2 separate regions of the Homo sapiens genome follow, and region 1 is linked to region 2. The links come from fine-mapping of genetic effects on gene expression. A gene starts in region 2. The other region holds a variant in brackets. All regions are shown on one strand. Distances are between the middles of the regions. Region 1 holds the start of LOC101926948 (a long non-coding RNA gene). Region 2 holds the start of CD72 (CD72 molecule).

Region 1 (2,857 bases), 28 kb before region 2:
AAGGCTATTGCAAGATTTGAGTGAGAGGGGATGGCGGCAGTAGCGGTAGGGATGCAGAGGAGGGATGGATTACAAAGAGATGTTTAGGGTTTTTTTTTTTTTTAAAGGCCCCACCTATCACATCTTCCAGATTTCTGGTTAGAGCCTGTAACACCCCCCAACCCAAATCCTCATCATCATAATACAGCATAGCTCCAAGTTGGTTTCAGCTCATCACCTTCCTCACCTGGCAATCTCTCTCTCTCTCTCTCTCTCTCTCTCTCTCTCTCTCACAAACACACACACACCCTCCACCCCTTAAGCCCATCTGTGATCCATCTGTCTAGCAAAAGCTCCAACCTGTCAAACCTCTTCTAGGATATTTCAAGGTCTAGACCATCTCCCCAGGGCCTCTGTAGAGGCGGGCCGCGCTTGACAGATCTTTCTGAGGCTTGAGGGGCTGAAGAAAGGAGAAGCTGAGGCTTTCACTTCCAAGCTTCTCTTCTTCCCACTTGGAGTGCCACAGGAAGCCACAGAGGAGGAACCCGTGCGCCTGATTCCTGCCTGGTGGTCCCAATTTGAAAGGGACCACCCTTCCCTTAAGCCCACCCCCCTACAGACCCCACAAATGCCCCTGGGTCCCTGGACCTCTGAGGACCCCACCCTGGGCCTCCCCAGGAGAGGCCCAGGTCGCGGTTAAGGGCAGGTAGCTGGGGATGCGGAGGAGGGAGGGAGGGAGGCTTCGGGGGCGGACACCGGATGCGGGGAACCACCGGCAGCGGGATGTGGGGTTCTGAGGGCTGCGGTGCTTCTGAAGATGGCTCAGCGTCGCGCCAGGTGGACGTGAGAGCTTTACCCTGGAGGAGGCGGGGGTTGGAGTCCCGCCTACCCACTGGGACAAGCCAAGGGGTCAAACGCCCCCAACCCAGCCCGCAGATCTCCTCGAAGCACCCGGTTCTCCTGGCCCGCCCAGACCCACGGCGCTCGCCGCCTTCGCCCGCTTAGGACTGAGTCCGCAGCGCCGCCGCCTGGCGAGGGGCGGAGTTGCCACCACTTCTGCGCAGGCGGGATGCAGCCTGGCCCGCGGCATCCCGGGAGTTGTAGTCTCGACGCTTCGGGGCCACCCCAGGGTCTGGTCCCTGACGACGCGCAGTGAGGGCCCCGCCGCTACCCCAGCAGTCGCCTCCCAAGTTCGCGGAACGCAGCTGACCGGCTCCCTCTGGACTGGGTGACATGACTGCTCCCAAGCAGTCGTTTGTAAACTGAGTTTCTGTAAAACAATTTTATTTTTCATATGTGACTGTAGCGGGGTATGATTTGAACTTTGTTTTCCGTCCCCCAGCCCGGATTCTCTGTCTTCTCCTGTACAGCCGTTCCGTTTTCTTA[C/G]CTCGTCTCCGTCACCGAGGCCCTCAGCCCTGAACACAAGGACTGGGCAGTTTCCCTATTGATTCCTGAACCTGGAACTTAAGACATCTTCCGAGGGGCCCCCCCTTGCCACACCCTCTAGCTGATCGACTCACAAATACCTGTGATTTCTCTCCCCGTCTCCACCTCCAGGTACTTCCCTAGTGGACTCCTTTCCCTCACCGGCGTAGCATTCCAGCCAGAAGGAGTGCCCGTCCTAGCGCCCCGTTCCCAGGGACAGACCCTCAGGGGGAGCTCCTAGGGCCCCAGCTGTCCCTCCTCTTTCTTAAAGCCTAGCTAGGAGGATAGGGACACATTGAAAACGGAAGAGGGAGGGTCTCCGGGACAGTCAAAGGTTCAACAGCAGGAAGTTCTTTTTTTTTTTCTTTTTTTTTGAGGCGAAGTCTTGCTCCTGTCGCCCAGGCTGGAGTGCAATGGCACGATCTCGGCTCACTGCAACCTCCGCCTCCCAGGTTCAAGAGATTCTCCTGCCTCAGCCTCCTGAGTAGCTGGGAATACAGACGCCCGCCAACACTCCCGGCTAATTATTTTTGTATTTTTAGTAGAGAGAGGGTTTCGCCATGTTGGGCAGGCTGGTGAACTCCTGACTTCAGGTGATCCGCCCACCTAGACCTCCCAAAGTGCTGGGATTACAGGCTTGAGCCACCGAGCCTGGCCAGGTTCTTAAGAAATTACTTATAGGTGGGGAGGGTCTTTGGAAGCCATCCGGCCAGGGCACCTCCATCTTTGGCCCTGCTCTGTAGTCTCTCAAAGATGGGTTTAAACTTCCAGCTTGGTTTTCTTACAAGGAGGGAAACAGAGCTGGGTTGTGGAGAGAAACCAAGTGTTTTTTAATTCTTAATTTTTATGGGTACATAGTAGGTGTATGTATTTATAGAGTACATGAGATATTTTGATATACGCATACAATGCATAATACAGACCAAGTTTTTTTTTGTTTGTTTTTGTTTTTTGAGACGGAGTCTTGTTCTGTTGCCCAAGCTGGAGTGCAGTGGTGCAACCTCGGCTCACTGCAACCTCTACCTCTTGGGTTCAAGCGATTCTCCTGCCTCAGCCTCCCTAGTAGCTGGGACTACAGGTGTGCACCACCATGCCCTGCTAATTTTTGTATTTTTAATAGAGACGGGGTTTCACCGTGTTGGCCAGGCCGGTCTCCAACTCCTGACCTCAAGTGATCCACCCGCTGGGATTACAGGCGTGAGCCACAGCGCCTGGCCCAGACCGAGTCTTAATGACTTCATTTGAAACCTTGAATCTAGACATGCCCAGAGCTATATTTGCCTTCTGAACTTTTTGGCTATGTAAGCTAATGAATTCCTTTTTTTTTTTTTTTTTGAGACGGAGTTTCGCTCTTGTTGCCCAGGCTGAAGTGCAGTGGCGAGATCTCGGCTCACTGCAACCTCCGCCTCCTGGGTTCAAGCGATTCTTCTGCCTCAACCTCCCGAGTAGCTGG
Region 2 (2,899 bases):
GTGGCCACTTCCTCTAGGGCTGGCTGGGCGGAGCTATTGGCAGAGCTCTAGGGTCCCTGGCAGTGTCCTGCCACACACCACCAATCATCCGAGCTGTTGGCATGTGGTGAGGACCTTTTCCCCCTTCCTTTTTCCTCCCCACAGCTGCAGGAGGGGGATTCTGCGGGGCGGATGTCACTTTGCTAGGGGCGGGTTCTTCCCACCCCCACACTACATCTTGTTCTAGCTCCTTCCTATCCCGGATGTAGGCCATTTTGGGGTTCCTAGTAGGGGTCACATCCCGGTAAAAGAACATTAGGGAGCACCTTTGGGCACCCCTGCTCAGCAGCCCCCTTTCCCCCAACTGGTTCCCTCTCTCCTCCATCAGCCAGGCCCCCACCACCTATGAGGGCCTCGCGGTCCCTGGGTCCTCCGCCACAAATGCCCCCTTTTTCCTTGGGGCTGGGTGGGAAGGGACAGCTTTGGGACTTTTTAAAGAAAGAACTTTGCTAGGAAAGTAAGAGACGAACCAAAACCAAACCAAGAAAATGTCAAGACCTCCGCTGGTCCGGAATCTGCGCTCGGCCTCTGGCTCTGTTCTGCTCCTCTGCCTTGACTTCACCTAGGAAGCTGCAGCCTTCTTAAGCCCTCTGCAACTCCCTTGCTCACCTGCTCCCTGGCTCCCCATGAGGGTGCATGGGGGGCAGTGCTGCCACTTGCCTTTCCAGAGGTGCTGCAGCCATGGCTCTTCCTTACCTTCACCTCTGGCCCAGGCCTGTTCCTGAACCCCCAGTTACTGGAACCCCCAGGATGATGAGAAGCGAGGGATGCAAACCAGGAACCCCCAGTCTCATGGGGAGAACGGAGCCTCACCCTGGAGCTGGGGAGATCGTCTGGGTCAGTGCAGCTCCAGCTACACATCATAAGCCCCAGTGGACAAGGCAGCCAGGAGGAGGGTGGGGCAGATCAGGGCAGATAACCAGAAGGACCGAGTTTGGGGCCCAGCATGGCCCATATGGGTTTAAGATGCATGGAGAGGAAGCACAGGGAGGACATGGGGACAGGCCCATCCCCTACCCCTGTGTTCTGGACCTCAGCGTCCCCTCCGTGGCCCCTCTGGCCCTGGCCCAGGGATGCCTTCTGCTTCATTGAGCCCATCTGTTTGAGACTTGCTAACACCTTCCTCTTTTGTGACTGGAAGTCACAGGGCCAATTGCTAAGCCGTGCAGTCACAGAGGGAACACAGAGCCTAGTTGTAAACGGACAGAGACGAGAGGGGCAAGGGAGGACAGTGGATGACAGGGAAGACGAGTGGGGGCAGAGCTGCTCAGGACCATGGCTGAGGCCATCACCTATGCAGATCTGAGGTTTGTGAAGGCTCCCCTGAAGAAGAGCATCTCCAGCCGGTTAGGACAGGGTAAGGGGGATGAGGCCTCCCCTTGATCCTGCATCCCCACTTCCCGCCCCACAGATCCCATTCCCAAATCCCACCTTGGTCCCTTTTCTCTTCTCTCTAGACCCAGGGGCTGATGATGATGGGGAAATCACCTACGAGAATGTTCAAGTGCCCGCAGTCCTAGGGGTGCCCTCAAGCTTGGCTTCTTCTGTACTAGGGGACAAAGCAGGTCTGGAGAGCCTGGGGGATGTGTGTTTGTTGGGGGGCTGTGTCTTGAGCTGGGGAGTCCACAATGTTTTTGTTGTTGTTCTTGAGACAGGGTCTTGTTCTGTCACTCAGGCTGGAGTGCAGTGGTGTGATCATGGCTCACTGCAGCCTCGACCTCCTGGGCTCAAGTGATCCTCCTGCCCTGGCCTCCCAAAGTGTTGGGATTGCAGGCGTGCGCCCCCATGCCATGGCCCTCAGTATTCTTGAGAGCACAATACCCTGGGGAAAGGAGGAGGGCGGTTCTTAGGAAACAGAAGAATAGGAACAGGATAAATGGGAGCCAGGGGAGGAAGAAAGATTCCTCCCGCAAGGTGGAGACCCCTTTCGGGGAGATAAGGGCTGCGGAGGGATAGGGCAGCCCTGTGGGGGATGAGTTCTAATGGGAAACGGGGAGCCATGGGAGGGAAAAGAGGTGATGGGAGATGGATGAGAGCAAAGGGGGAGAGGGTTTGGAGCCGACAGATAAGGGGCCTCTGAGGAAACGATAAAGGGAGAACTAGGAGAGATGAGGGGGTCCCGGGAAAAGATACAGTGAGACCCAGGAGGAAGCCGAGAGAGTCCCGGGCAGAGGAGGAACTCAGGAGAGTGACACTGTGTCCCAGAGCAGCTCTAGCAGGCAACGTAGGGCAGACTGGAGTTTCCCAGTGGCGAGGGCGAAGCGGGTGCGCAGGAGGAGAAGGGGCAACACTCGGGGCTTCCGGTCTCACACTGGATGCTCCCCTCGACAGCGGTCAAGTCGGAGCAGCCAACTGCGTCCTGGAGAGCCGTGACGTCACCAGCTGTCGGGCGGATTCTCCCCTGTGAGTGTGCCTGTGCGGGGCAGCCGCGGGGCCAAGTGCTCGCGCCTGTCCCGGCTGCGGATGGCGCTGGGCCCCGCGGGGTGCAGCTCCTTCCGGGATAAACCCGGGCGCAGTCCTTCCGACGCCCGGGCTGCCGTGCCACATTCACCTTCATCCGGTGCGCCTGAATCCGACGTGCACCGCCCCCCTGCGGATGGTCCCAATTCACCTACCTGCCCCCCTTCCCCTCTCTCCGTCTGATATTTCCTTCCCCTTCTCCCAGGTAACGCCCCCGAGTCCCCACCAGCACTGATTCTGGAACACCCTCTCCCCTACCTGCGAAACACCCCGCTACCCGACAGAAACCACCATGCTTGCCCCCTCAGCTCTGCACCGCCCTCCTCTTAGGGATGCCTTCCCCAGGGGTCTCCCCCACGGACCTGTCCCTTCCTCTCTACATTCTTTACGGGGGCTGACT

What was found. PIP is the estimated chance that this variant, and not a neighbour inherited with it, causes the effect.
Region 1: its variant is fine-mapped to the expression of CD72 in sun-exposed skin (GTEx, PIP 0.91).

Annotation. Positions count from the first base shown.
Region 1 is chr9:35,645,082-35,647,938 of GRCh38, reverse strand. It overlaps LOC101926948 (a long non-coding RNA gene), which reads right to left and starts at 1,669. Exons shown (of 2, transcript NR_135130.1): 1 at 1,506-1,669; 2 at 463-1,249. It also overlaps a transcript of CD72 not described here. RefSeq lists an enhancer at 1,118-1,497. The variant C/G (reference allele first, on the strand shown) is at 1,366.
Region 2 is chr9:35,616,719-35,619,617 of GRCh38, reverse strand. CD72 (CD72 molecule) reads left to right here and starts at 1,205. Exons shown (of 9, transcript NM_001782.3): 1 at 1,205-1,396; 2 at 1,497-1,604; 3 at 2,371-2,442. The coding sequence starts at 1,315. RefSeq lists enhancers at 2,201-2,350, 2,790-2,899.